Linked DNA regions of Homo sapiens. The protein of the gene in region 4 purifies or fractionates together with the protein of the main gene of each other region. This does not show direct contact. Each region holds a gene or a part of one and is shown on either strand. Other genes may lie near its edges.

Region 1 (3,500 bases), on a different chromosome or scaffold from region 4:
TGGGTGAGCCTTATTTTAACTGTCTGCTGAAACATGTTAAAAAAAAAAATAAAAGGCTCCAGGTTACAAATAATTCCTTCTATCAGCTGCACGCTACTTTTGGAGAAGTCACGTAGTCCAGCAGTTAAGAGCTGGACTCAGGAACCACAAAGCCCAGGTCTGAATCCTAGCTCTGTGCTACTACCAGTATGAGTGTAGACATACTACACCTTAGTTTTCTCATCTGTAAAATGGGGACAGTAACAGAATCTACTTCACGGGGTTATTGTGAAGATTAAGCAAATGGGTTACTGCATGTAAAACACTTGGAACTCTACACGTAGGAAAGGAGGGTAGCCAAGACAACCTGGTCTATACTTAAAGAGAAAATCGACAATCTCTCACCAAGCTAGGAGTGCAGGCAAGAAGTCAGACACAGAAAACAACAGCACTGAGAGATTACAGCAGTTCCCTCAAATACTGCCAACCAGTAATGTCTGTATCAGAAAGGAAATTTCTACTTATTCCATACCCCTCTTTCACTCTCCAAAAATAAATCAACCATCTCTACAGAAAAATTTTACATATCAACACTGCCAACATATGAAATAGAATTTAGTGTTACCTTTGAGCCAACTATCGTCCCTGCTAACCTTAATGTAATTCAGTGAATTACTAAAGGAAGCCGATTTTTAAGAATAAGAGTTACTGTGGCATGGTTCATGGTTTGGTTGTATATTTAGAACTCACAATGTTCTTTCATAACACTAACAGACTAATAGGTACTAGACAGGATGCTGAAATATTAATCATCGTCTTTATCATTTCCTCCTAGAATTAAATTATTAAAGCAATCGAGTATCTTCTTTGTTTTTCTTAGTAGCCTGGATTAGTTACACTGATTGAGTTCAACTTATTAAACACTTACCACATGTTAAGTGAAAATGGCTAACTTTTATTGAGGACTGTCTATCTGCCAGGTACAGTTCTAAAGACTTAACATGAATGAGCTTTCTTTAATTCCCACATCAACTCTATAATCCCCATTTTGCAGGTGCAGTAAATGAGACACAGAGGGGTTAAATAATGTAGGTCACACAGCAAAAATAAAGCCAGAATTCAAACCCAGCAACTCTAACTCCAAAGCCTGTGCTCTTCATTACTAAGCCTTATTGTGCCATGTTTAAGAAATGCCTTGGCCAGGCGTGGTGGCTCACGCCTGTAATCCCAGCACTTTGGGAGGCCGAGGTGGGTGGATCACCTAGGTCAGGAGTTCGAAACCAGCCTGGCCAACATGGTGAAACTCCATCTCTACTAAACACACAAAAATTAGCCAGGCATGGTGGCGGGCACCTACAATCCCAGCTACTCAGGAGGCTGAGGCAGGAGAATCGCTTGAACCTGGGGGGCCAAGGTTGCAGTGAGCCAACTGCACAACTGCATTCCAGACTTGGCAAAAGAGCGAAACTCCGTCTCCAAAAAAAAAAAAAAAAAGCCTTGAGGCCAGGCACGGTGGCTCACACCTACAATCCCAGAACTTCAGGAGGCTGAGGCAGGCAAATTGCTTGAAGTCAAGAGTTCGAGACCACCCTGGCCAACATGGCAAAACCCCAACTCTACTAAAAATACAAAAATTAGCCGGGCATGGTGGCACACGCCTGTAGTCCCAGCTACTCGGGAGGTTGAGATAGGAGAACTGCTTGAACCCAGGAGGCTGAGACTGCAGTGAGCCAAGATCACGCCACTGCACTCGGTCTGGGTGACAGAGCGAGACTCTGTTCAAAAATATATATATATAGGAAAAGATATATATGCATACATTACTCCAAAAACAAGAAAGATGGAAATACACACTACAAGTGAGGCATAAAGAGCAACAGGAAGATGAAAGAGAGTGAGATACTAATCGAAGAAGACCTCTAAGAGAAAAGAGATTCCAGTTGGTCCATAAAAGGGGAGACCAGATGCTGCCAAGTGTATGCTGGAGGAGAGGGCACTCATTCTCCACGGAGGGACCAGACTGAATGACAGCCTCCATGAGGAAGATAGGACACATGCTTGTGATTTGTAAAACTCTAAGTAGCCTAGAGTGGCTGCAACGTCACGGCACTGTGGGAAGGAGGGGGAAAGGCATTAGACAGTGGACAGCTAGGCTGAAAAATGAGGTAGGAAGCCAAGCATGGAGGGCAATGATGTCAGACTATAAAATGTCCTTTACTGGACACGTTTGGGCAAAAGACCTAGTACAGGTGAAATGTCTATATCTAAATGATTTTAAGATGATGCCTCTTATATGTTTAATATTATATTAAGAGTATCACCTGTAATCCCAGCACTTTGGGAGGCCAAGGCAGGCGGATCACGAGGTCAGGAGTTCGAGACTAGCCTGGTTAACATGGTAAAACCCGTCTCCACTAAAAAATAGAAAAATTAGCCAGCCATGGTGGCACACACCTGTAATCCCAGCTACTCAGGAGGCTGAGGCAGGAGAATCACTTGAACCCAGGAGGTGGAGGTTGCAGTGAGCCAAGATGGTACCACTGCACCCCAGCCTGGGTGACAGAGCCAGACTCCATCTCCAAAAAACAAAAAGTATCAATCTTAACTACATCTTATCACTAGAGGGTATATTTTAAAACTGAATTTTAGTTAACGCTTTGTATGGTATCAAAATAGTGTATAAGAACTGAATATGTATTCCCTGTATGCCTTATTCAAGATAACTACAAACCTTGAATCAAAGAGGCTTACCTGTCCACTGTCCATCTCTTGAAGATGCTGAATGGATGCATTTTTCAAAAGAGAAATAACTCTCCAGATAGGGTTACCCCTTTTCCACCCAACCTTCAAATGCAGATTTATAAGCTCAGTTAACACCATCAGGTATAAATGGCAACGATCCAGATCTGAAACCTAAGACAAGGATTAAAACACTTAAGGGTACAAGCAAGGTCCATGATTTTCACAAAACTACAAGCCTTCAGGCAGGAGAAGTTTACTTAAAGGACCACAACAAGACACTGATGAGAAAATAAGTTCTTTTCTCCAAGCAGCCTTCCATAACCTCCCACGCAGAGCTAAGGACTTCCTTCTCTGTGCTTACACAGTGACTGTGCATTCAGCACAATTATGGTGCATTTCACAGTTGAGTCATCTGTCTCCCTACCTATGAGGGAGACCTTAGATGGCAGAAATTACCATCTACCAATTCTTATGTCCCTAGGGCTAGTACATCATAAATAATAATGATAATGGTTATAGCAATGACTACTTCCACTGTTTACAAAAATCACTTCTCACAAAAAAGATCACTGTCCCACTTTCATAAGACAACTAAGTTTCAGAGAGGTTAAACAACTTAAATGCACATTTTTTGACTCATAAACCCAGAAAAAAATGGGTTCAGCTCTACCATGCACCAGCCCTGTGACATAGGACAAGTTATTTAACTCTTCACTACTAAGCCTTATTGTGTTAAGATCTCATAATTCAGGTGGGGAGATGGATGACTCAATTGTGAA
Region 2 (3,500 bases), on a different chromosome or scaffold from region 4:
TTTTCTGTATCTGTGTGCTGCCCACCTTGGCCATTAGCGGTTGGAGCTGCCCCTCTTTGTTGTCACTGTCATTTTTTAAACATAGTATATGTATTCTTTTTCTTTTTTTAGTGACAGGGTTTCACTATGTTGCCCACACTGGCCATGAACTCTTGAGCTCAGGTGATCTTCCTACCTCAGCCTCCCAAGTAGCTGGGACTACAGGCACATGCCACTGTGCCCAGCTTGTCACTGCCAATTTTAATCTTGGCATGTTTGTCCCATTGCTGTATTGCCATGTGAAAAATTTTGCCAACAGCCAGGAGACCTCTGTTTCCTCTGTAAAGTTGAATCTTTCTTCCTTGTAATGACTTAATAGTGATTTCTATCAAGTGGAGAAGAAATCTTAAAACCGTACATACTGTTTTGGGCTCTCTGGTAGGTTTTAGGAGGGGAGCTCCCCAGGAGGTAAATGGGAATGCCATCCAGCTTTGGCAAATTCTTATTGAAACTAATGAGTTTAATAGACTGACCTTATTACTCCTATTTACAACCTCATTACAAAATTATCTGCTCAATGTTTGCTAAATTCTTTATCGGTCTTGAGAAGCTAAGCCTCCTGTTTAGTTCCTGCTGCAGCCGTGACAATTGTCTCCCTTTCATATGAAAAGAGTAGCCTCAAAGGCCCCTGAGTAAGAATAAGTAGTGGCTGTGGCAGTCTGTGGACATCAGGAATAATCTAGGGAACTTTGGCTTAAAGCATGTCAAGCTAAGAAGTGGTCTCCTATACCACGTGAATAAAAGAAAAAAATAAGACTTATTTGCTTATCTAGCACACTTCTTGATCTTACAAGGAATTGCCTAGTAGGGTGATATTTTACTCCCATTAACCTCACTCTTAGAACCTGGAAAGGATAATGTACATTAGGTAACACCTTGGGAGGAAGAGTAGGAGGGAAAAATCTTTGTGCCAAAGTCTGGTACTGGAATTTTACACCAGAGTCACCACTGATTTGCTTAGTGAGCCTTCCACTCAAATTTGGTTCTCCCTGTCATTTTTGCCCAGAGATATTCTGAAGACAGAAGGAAACAAAAGATCTCTCTTTGAGATCTTAGGGTGGCAGGAACCCTGTGTGCCCAGGAATGTTATTTGTACTATCTCCGTGCTCATTGTTGGGCCCTCAGGCAAATCTAACAGCCTGGCAACTCTTTAGAGCTGGAGCAAGGGCATACCCTCCTTTGAGAAGGATACCGGGTTTTCAGACTTTTTCATAGGTAGACCTATGAATGTCCAGATTGCTGGTGAAAGGAGTAGCAACTGATTTAGCATTGTAGCTTGTGATTAGTCAGGGCCCTGGATCCCTGGGCTGCCCAAGAGGAACTTTAGGGCTCTGCTTAGGGAGCTGCCCACATTCCTGGTACCACCTGTTTCTGTATTAAGTAGTACAGGTTGAAGGCATGAAAGCAACTGAGTGAAGAGAATCCATACCTTTGGAAGTGCAGTTCTTTAGCATGTGGGCACTCTGTTGCAGAGTGCATCTCTCTCCTCTGCATGGGAGAATAGATGAGAGGCCCTAGAACGGTCTTGAGCCATTTAGAAGGCCTTTCCCCTCAGATTTGCTGCTCTTGGAAGATTTCTCTGGAAAGGAACCAACCTCTTCCCAAGGCTTGGAGTGTTAATCTATTTATTTATAGCTTTTTTTACCCTAATTTTCTTTTTCTTTTTTTTTTTGAGACAGAGTTTAGCTCTTGTTGCCCAGGCTGGAGTGCAATGGCTCGATCTCGGCTCACCGCAATCTCCACCTCCTGGGTTCAAGTGAATCTCCTACCTCAGCCTCCCGAGTAGCTGAGATTATAGGCATGTGCCACCACGCCTGGCTAATTTTGTATTTTTAGTAGAGACAGGGTTTCTCCATTTGGGTCAGGCTGGTCTTGAACTCCTGACCTCAGGTGATCCGCCCGCCTCGCCTCCCAAATGTTGGGATTACAGGTGTGAGCTACCGTGCCTGGACCTTGATTTTCAAACTAATACATTCTTGTGTCTCACAAATGCAGAAAATGCAGGAAAATGCAAAACAAAAGAAATATCAGTTCACCTCTCAGTTTCCATGGTTACTCATTCTTAGTGGTCTGGGTTTTCTGAGTGGCACTCTCTGGCACTCTGTGACGTTTGCCAGATTGGTTCATGTAAGCAAGTCAACTCGATTAAGAGAATTGGACAGCCACCATAAAGGGAAGGGCAGATTTTGTGCCTCTCATACAGGGACATTCTCAACCAAAATTTATCCTTGCTAACTTATTAGAAGCCAGAATTTTGGTTTTAAGTTTATTCTTTCACACATGTTCACCTGTCTTTTCTTTCTTTTGTAAAATGTTGTATCCTTGAAAATGCATATTAACCTTATCTATTAGATTTTTAAGCTCTCTAAGGGTTGTTACTTTTGCACAGTACCCCATTATATGTAGCATGATCTTTTATAGAATAGGTGCTGAACCAGTATAGTAGTCTGATCTTTTAAACGGTATCAGTGTTCTGAACTATGACAGATGTCCTAATTCAACCTACTGGTGGGGAAGCTAAATCATAGCCCAGGAGGGCTCCGTTCTCTGTTAAGATATAGAGATCCCATTCTCATCCTTAAACTTCTGAGGCCTGAACAGCTTGCACTATTTGTAAGAGGAAATGTCTCAAGGAGTCATATACTCTGTAGGTCCTTAGGAAAGTGATACTTGGCTGACACATCTTTACATTTACTACAGTAATCATTTAATTAATTTCTATTAAATGGAAAGCCTCAGTCCAGGTGTTGGGTACAGACTGTGACATAGTTCCTGCTCTCCAGGAGTGACCCTGTCCAATGGGGACAGCAAGTGGCAAACAATAACTGGCTCTAAGGCAATGTGATGAGTGCTGTGCCAATGACACTGGTGTTACTGGAGCACAGTGGAAGGGATAATCAGTTAGGCCTGGAGTGCTGGGGAAAGCTTTGTTCTTCTTGAATGTCAACCCTTAGCAGGTTTTGGTTCTGGTAGGGAAATGGATGGATCACTTAAGATTGGCTTCAGAATTATAATGTATTCTTCAAGTTAGAAATACCTGAATAGTGACCACCTCGGGTCTATTAAAAAATGTTTTACACACTGCCGTCTGTGACTTTCCTTCAGTACTTCTCACAAGCAGCCAAGTTTTGAATCAACACCCTTTCTGAGTGGTGTCCCTTCTTCTTCAAAGGAATTATGCCACATTGCTAAGTCAATATTTTCATATTTATTTTAAATTTTAATAGATAATATATTCACATGGTTCATAAGTCAAAAAATATAAAAAGATAGCCAGTGTAAACTTTCGTGGTATAAAAATGTAAATCAAGTTTCACTTTTGCTTTCACTAGTTCCAAGTAATTGTTTTGGTATTCTGTCTCCAAATGCTAACCCCTGAATGTGTGAATAATCACTTTTATTGGTCTTCTTGTATATCGTTCCTTCCAAAAGCTCTTTTTGCAATTATAAGAAATAAAAAT
Region 3 (3,500 bases), on a different chromosome or scaffold from region 4:
GAAACTGCACTGAAAGGTAAAGGAGGAAATGGTGATGAACTGGGCTTATGTGAGAATGTCTATATTTTCATAACACAGCCCCAGAATCTTTCTCTCAGTTACAGCCTCAGGCAAACCACGTTCTGGTTGGTGGGTTCTGCAGGGATCTCTCCCACCACTGAGCCTCTAGTCCCAAAACCATCCTTGACAACATCGTGTGTCTGTTACTTCCCTTTGCCCACCTCCAGGCCACCTGGGGAAGCCCACAGGCAGCCAAGACCCTGAAATGAAATGAACACAAAGTCTGACTCGGTAAGTATTAGTTTCAAACAGAACACTAAAGAGAAAAGTTGAAGCTGCAATGTGTGTTTAAGGCAGAGCCCAGCAGATCCGTGTCCACCCATGTGCCAATAAGACAATGGGCAAAGCTACAAATGGCAAGAGAAAAATGGGACTATTAATGCGTGTGGAAAAGGCCTTAATAGTTAAGTTACAGCTAAGAATGTCATGTCTTGGGTTAGAATTTTCATTTTTAGCACCGTTAATGTATTCACTTAAATCTATGTTAGCACCTTGTCTCCAGGCAGAACAACAAACCATCCAAACATTTTAAACATTGGGGGAAACACGAAGGGGAGGGTTAAAGAGAGAATCCGGTACTGTGGAAGGAGTGGATTTAGATCACAAGATCCTTGTCGATATCCTCTGCAAAGCAAGAAAAGAGCACGGTTAAAAATAAGGCTGTGTCGATGATAACGCACTTCCCAAGGAGTCAGTGGACTCCCACCCATCCCCAGGGGCAGGGGTCTAGGTGGCCATGCAAGGTCACCCAGGAAGTCAGTGACGGAGGAATCTCGCTCTCTCTGTCTCTGGCCTGTCCCTGTCTCTTACACACGCTGCCAAGTTACACTTCCTGTTTCCTCTCTGTGTGCCTGCCAGTTCCCAAAATAGTGTTTAGCACGGGTGAGTGCTAACGCTTGAGGAAGGGAAAGAGAGAGGGACAGTTGGATGGACAGAGAAGGATCAGGAAGACGCCCAAGAGACAGGAGTCAAATAGGCAGAGAGAGCAGAGACAGGCAGAGAGGACAGACAACAGACAGACCAAGAGAGCGGAGAGTGGGGGGATGACAACCCAGCACCCTGGGAGCAGTGTTTCTGCCCATGCCCCTTGCTTCTTTGTTCAGACACTCACTCTGCTTGATGCCGAAGCAGCCGGCCCACTCATCCAGGGCGATGTACTTGTCATTGTCCAGGTCACAGGTCTCGAAAAAGCGGGTGGTGCAATGCTCCATGGGGATGAGGGGAGCACGCAGTGGAGCCAGCTCGGTGTGGGAGAGGTACCTGCAGGGAAGGAGGCAGGGGAGGGCCTGAGGCATGGAAAAGCTCCACACCCAGCCTTGGGAGGCAACCGGGGAGTTAGCCTGCCCCAGAGCATGGAGGAAAGGATATTTAAAGCAGGACAAAAAGCCAGAATCCCAGGTCTACCCCTAGCTCTGCCACTGACTGCTCTGAGACTCAGAGAACAGCAGTGCACCATTCGGAACCTCAGTTTCTCCTTCCAGCAAAGAGGAGGAGATGGCCATAATTACTAACGGCCCTTCCAGCTCTAAGGTTTCAGGGTCTCAAAAACAAAGGTCTGTTTGGTGTATTTGATTGTTTCCTAATTGGCTGAGAACTGGGGACACAGAAACTTAAAATCAAAATTCAGCACTTCTGCTATGGGTAGATCAAAATCTAGCATGACACAGCACTGTATATTGTCTATGGACACACATTTATACATCTATAAATGCCTAGTAAAGGGTCTAAAAATGACACACCAATCTGGTGACAGTGCTGCCTTCTGGGGAGGAATGTGGAAAGGGACTGGGATTGGCAGTGAGGGTCAACGGGAGCTCTAACCATCTTCATAGAGCTTTGCTTGTGTATCCTGTAATGTCTGAGAGGGAGGCCCTTTGGATGTCTCTCCCACTGTCCTCCCTCCCTATTCTCCCTGCTGGCCTTAGACTCCAGAGCATGTGTATAATTTTTTTCTTTGTTTCCCAGAGCCCCCAACTACTTGTCCCTAAAGATCCACAAAGGATCTCCAGGGAACAATGTGACTCCAGTTGTCTTCTTAACCTCTAGACCTCGCAGCCCCACCCAGCTCACCAAAGAAATCACACAATGTTTGAACTGATAGGAACATTCTCCTCCCCTTCATTGTACTGGTGGAAAACTGAGGCCCAGGGAGGGGCAGGGATGCAGGCAAGGTCACCTACAGCCCTGGGATGGGAGGAGGAGGAAGCGGGTCCCCTTGCCCAAGCTGGACCCCTTTCCCAGATGTGCTGTTCTTGCACCCCATCTGAAAGCCTCCCTCCAGGCCCTCTGTTGCAGTGGGATCAAATTGCTTTGCCTGAGCTCCAGATGTTCCCCTTTGACTTTTCCCCTCCCTGCCATAATGAGTGACTCAGTTGGATCCCAGCCATGGCAAAAGCCTGGGAGAGAAGTGGCCGGGAGATTCCCAGAGCCCAGGAGACCCCAGCCCTCAGGATCACTGGCAGGGTTGGCAGACTCCAGGCACACAGGCTGGACAAAGAGCGAGGGGTGAACATCCTAGAGAGGAAGTTCCCTGAGTATGTGAGTAGGGCAGCCCTTCCTTTCCCCTCTGTGTGATGCTCTGCTTCCACAACCCAAGGACGAAGAAAAAACCACTCTGGGAAGGTGCAGGTGTAGCTTGCTCCATCTGAGGCTGAGCAGGGGCTCTCACTTCATCACCACAAGAGAAGTTCAGAAGGTAGTGACAGGTTATGAACAGAGTATAAGTCCATGAGGGCAAGGACCATGCCAGCTCTGACTGCTGTTCAATCCCCTGCCTAGAATAGTGCAGGGCACAAAATGCACACTCCATAAGCATTTGCTAACTGGCCAGCTGCCTGCCTGTTCGGCAGTGCAGTTGCACAGGGCCTCATAACTCGTTTGGACAAGGGACAAGAGCCCTCAAACTGGGGGCTTGCAAAATAGACAGGCTTTTTTGGATAACTTCCAGGGTCAGTTGGGCCCTATTGGGGCTGAGCCTTAGGAGGGGGCTTAGACAGTGCCAGGTGGCTGCTCTGCCCCTGGATGTTCTGCTGAAGGACAGGGGGCGTGTGGCTGACCCAACCTTGTCCCCTGCCACCCCTTGGAGCCTGGTACTCCTTCTTAATTCACACTCCTTCATTATCCAGATATCCACGCCTAGTACTTGCAGGATTATGGAGCTATTTTGAGCTCCTACTGACTTTCACCTCAGCATGAGAGTGTCTTATCGGTTTCTTTGTCCCAGGTCCACATCTTTTCTCCAGATGCCTCATCCTTCTGCTCCAATCCCCAGGCAAACTGTGGATGCCAGGGCTTGGAGCAGTATAGGCTGCTGAGAGGCTTTCTGGCCATAGCTAGTGCACCTGCCAGCCTTGAGCTCTGTTCACTCTAGGGTCTGGGGTCTTACCCGTCAATGGGGTGCTGGTCCAGCTGGCCGAACTGCCAGTGTACAGGGAAGATGT
Region 4 (3,500 bases):
CCTCAGGTGATCCGCCCATCTTTGCCTCCCAAAGAGCTGGGATTACAGGCATGAGACACCACACCCGGCCAATAAGTGTCTTCAAATGGGAATGTCAGGCTGGGCGCGGTGGTTCACAGTGCTGTAATCCCAGCACTTTGGGAGGCCAAGGCAAGAGGATCGCATAAGTCCAGGAGTTCAAGACTAGACTGGGCAACATTTAGTAAAGACCCTGTCTCTACTAAAACAAAACAACAACCACAAAATCAGCTGGGTGTGGTGGTGCATGCCTATAGTCCCAGCTACTTGGGAGGCTGAGGCAGGAGGATCCCTTGAGACCAGGAGTTCAAGGTTGCAGTTAGCTGCTACCTGCAGATTGTACCACTGCACTCCAGCCTGAGCGACAAAGTGAGATCCTATCTCAAAACAAACAACAACAACAATAGAAACAGATGGGGCCAGGCACGGTGGCTCACACCTGTAATCTTAACACTTTGGGAGGCCAAGGTCAGAGGACTGCTTGAGGCCAGGAGTTTGAGACCAGCCTGGGCAACATAGCAAGACCCTGTCTCTAAGGAAAAAAAAAAATGCTGGGCGCAGTGGCTCACACCTGTAATCCCAACACTTTGGGAGGCTGAGCTGGGCAGATCACAAGGTCAAGAGATCGAGACCATCCTGGCCAACATGGTGAAACTCTGTCTCTACTCAAAAAAAAAAAAAAAAAAAAAAATTAGCCAGGCGTGGTGGCGCGTGCCTGTAATCCCAGCTACTTAGGAGGCTGAGGCAGGAGAATCACTTGAACCTGGGAAGCGGAGGTTGCAGTGAGCCGAGATCGCGCCACTGCACTCCAGCCTGGGCAACAAAAGCGAAACTCCGTCTCAGGAAAAAAAAAAAAATTAGCTAGGCATAATGGCATACACCTGTAGTCCCAGCTGCTAGGGAGGCTGATGTGGGAGAATCACTTGTACTCCAGAGGGGGAAGTTGGAGTGAGCCAAGATCACCTCACTCCACTCCAGCCTGGGCAACAGAGTCAGAACCTGTCTCAATAGAAAAAAAAAAAAAACAGATGAGAATATCAAACTCAGGCATTGATACTGAGTGCAGCAGGCTGGGTGGGGACTGTGGTTAGCTAGAGAACCCAAACAGCTACCCAGCCATTGACTGGTGCATATGGAGGTTTGAGAATATGAAACAGAGGACATTCAAGTAATTGAGTTGGTTTTTTGGATTTTGTTTTGTTTATGTTTTTAGTTTTTTTGTTTTTGTTTTTGTTTTGACAGAGTTTCGCTCTTGTCACCCAGGCTGGAGTGCAGTGGTACCATCTCGGCTCACTGCAACCTCCACCTCCCGGGTTCAAGGGAGATCCTCCTGCCTCAGCCTCCTGAGAAGCTGGGAGGCTGAGAAGCACCTTACAGTTGCCCACCACCAGGCACAGCTAATTTTTGTAATTTTAGTAGAGACGGGGTTTCACCATGTTGGCCAGGCTAGTCTCGAACTCCTGACCTCAAGTGATCCTCTGCCTCAGCCTCCCACAGTGCTGGGATTACAGGTGTGAGCCACCGTGCCCAGCCTCAAGTCACTGAGTTCTCTTGTAAAATCTACCGGTCAGAAAAACATTATCAAGCAATTCAAAAATGTATAAAATGCAGTACAGTCCAATCAAAACATGTCTGCAGGGCCAGGCATGATGGCTCATGCCTGTAATCCCAACACTTTGGGAGGCCAAGGTGGGAGAATCACTTGAACCCAGGAGTCCCAGCCCAGCCTGGGCAACATAACAAGACCCCATTTCTACAAAAAAAAAAAAAAAATTAAATTAGCCAAGTGTAGTGGCGTGCACCTGTCATCCTAGCTACTTGAGAGGCTGAGGCGGGAGGATCTCTTGAGCCCAGGAGGTCAAGGCTGAAGTGAGCTATGATGGCACCACTGCACTCCAGCGGGACACAGCAAGACCCTATCTCCAAAAAAAAAAAAAAGTTTGCTGCACCCAAATTGCTGCCACCTGGAGTCCGCCATTCATTCCTGGATGTTGATAATTACCCTCTGAGTTGAATTTACAATGGGGCTTCTGACTGATTGTTTTGGCTCTGGTGACAGACACAGCATAGCATTCTAGTACGGGTGTTCTAAAGGTGAGACACATAGCCAGTGCGGTGGCTCACGCCTGGAATCCCAGCACTTTGGGAGACCGAGGCAGGAGGATCACATGAGGTCAGGAGCTCGAGACCAGCCTGGCCAACATGGTGAAACCCTGTCTCTACTAAAGATACAAAAATTAGCTGGGCGTGGTGGCGCATGGCTGTAATCCCAGCTACTCAGGAGGCTGAGGCGGGAGAATCGCTGGAATCTGAGAGGCAGAGGTTGCAGCAAGCTGAGATCGTGCCACTGCATCCCAGCCTCAGTGACAGAGAAAGACTCTACTCTAAATAAATAAATAAAGGTGGGACACACATGCAGGTAAGTGCACGAAGGGGAGATGGATCCAGGGCTGGAAGTCCCCCCAGACTCACCTTAGTGAGGGGCAGCTGAGTGGGCAGGGTGATGCCTTCTTTAGCCAGCAGCTTCTTCTCATCCTCGGTGAGCACCAGCTCCTGACAGTGCCCAGCCCCAGGTCGCAGGAGGTAGGAGGCCCCCAGGTGATGCTGTTGCTACGGAAAAAATCAGAGGAATGACGGCGGGTGCAGGGACGCCAACTGCCTTCAGGAAATGAAAGAGGTATCAGATCGAAAACACTATCACCCCAGGCTGGGTGTGGTGGCTCACGCCTGTCATCCCAGCACTTAGAGAGGCTGAGGCATGTGGATCACTTGAGCTCAGGAGATCGAGACCAGCCTGGGTAACATGATGAAACCTCGTCTCTACTAAAAATACAAAAATTGCCCAGGTGCGGTGGCTCATGCCTGTAATCCCAGCACTTTGGGAGGCCGAGGTGGGCAAATCACTAGGTCAGGAGTTTGAGACCATCCTGGTCAACATGGTGAAACCCCGTCTCTACTAAAAATACAAAAAGTTAGCTGGGCGTAGTGGCGGGTGCCTGTAATACCAGCTACTTGCGAGGCTGAGGCAGGAGAATCGCTTGAACCCAGAAGTCAGAGGTTGCAGTGAGCCGAGATTGTGCCACTGCACTCCAGCCCTAGTGACAGTATGAGACTCCGTCTCAAAAAAAAAAAAAAAAAAAAATTACCCGACCATGGTGGCGGCGCCTGTAATCCCAGCTACTCAGGAGGCTGAGGCAGGAGAACTGCTTGAACCCGGGAAGCAGAGGTTCCAGTGAGCCCAGATCACACCACTGCACTCCAGCCTGAGAGACAGAGTAAGACTCTGTCTCAAAAAAAAAAAAAAAGAAAAGGTGGCTCACGTCTGTAGTCCCAGCACTTTGGGAGGCCGAGGCAGGTGGATCACTTGAGGTCAGGAGTTCGAGACTAGCCTGGCCAACATGGTGAAACCCTGTCTCCATTAAAAATACAAAAATCAGCCTGGTGTGGTGGCACGTGCCTGCAATCCCAGCTACTCGGGAGGC

Evidence for each region. Proteins that work in one complex are often made in the same cells at the same time.
Region 1: the proteins of CREB3L3 (region 4) and TARBP1 purify together in Homo sapiens (affinity purification with mass spectrometry; one large-scale study listed by BioGRID and IntAct). This does not show direct contact.
Region 2: the proteins of CREB3L3 (region 4) and CMTR1 purify together in Homo sapiens (affinity purification with mass spectrometry; one large-scale study listed by BioGRID and IntAct). This does not show direct contact.
Region 3: the proteins of CREB3L3 (region 4) and SPARC purify together in Homo sapiens (affinity purification with mass spectrometry; one large-scale study listed by BioGRID and IntAct). This does not show direct contact.

What each region holds. Positions count from the first base shown.
Region 1 is NC_000001.11:234,430,680-234,434,179, forward strand, and holds part of TARBP1 (tRNA (guanosine(18)-2'-O)-methyltransferase TARBP1), read right to left. Parts: intron 2,893-3,500; coding exon 2,731-2,892; intron 1-2,730.
Region 2 is NC_000006.12:37,439,721-37,443,220, forward strand, and holds part of CMTR1 (cap-specific mRNA (nucleoside-2'-O-)-methyltransferase 1), read left to right. Parts: intron 1-3,500. UniProt on the Homo sapiens protein: S-adenosyl-L-methionine-dependent methyltransferase that mediates mRNA cap1 2'-O-ribose methylation to the 5'-cap structure of mRNAs.
Region 3 is NC_000005.10:151,662,916-151,666,415, forward strand, and holds part of SPARC (SPARC isoform 1 precursor), read right to left. Parts: coding exon 3,446-3,500; intron 1,321-3,445; coding exon 1,172-1,320; intron 685-1,171; coding exon 656-684; coding exon of another isoform or gene 540-655; 3' UTR 1-539.
Region 4 is NC_000019.10:4,163,631-4,167,130, reverse strand, and holds part of CREB3L3 (cyclic AMP-responsive element-binding protein 3-like protein 3), read right to left. Parts: intron 2,629-3,500; coding exon 2,491-2,628; intron 1-2,490. UniProt on the Homo sapiens protein: Transcription factor that may act during endoplasmic reticulum stress by activating unfolded protein response target genes. Activated in response to cAMP stimulation. In vitro, binds to the cAMP response element (CRE) and box-B element.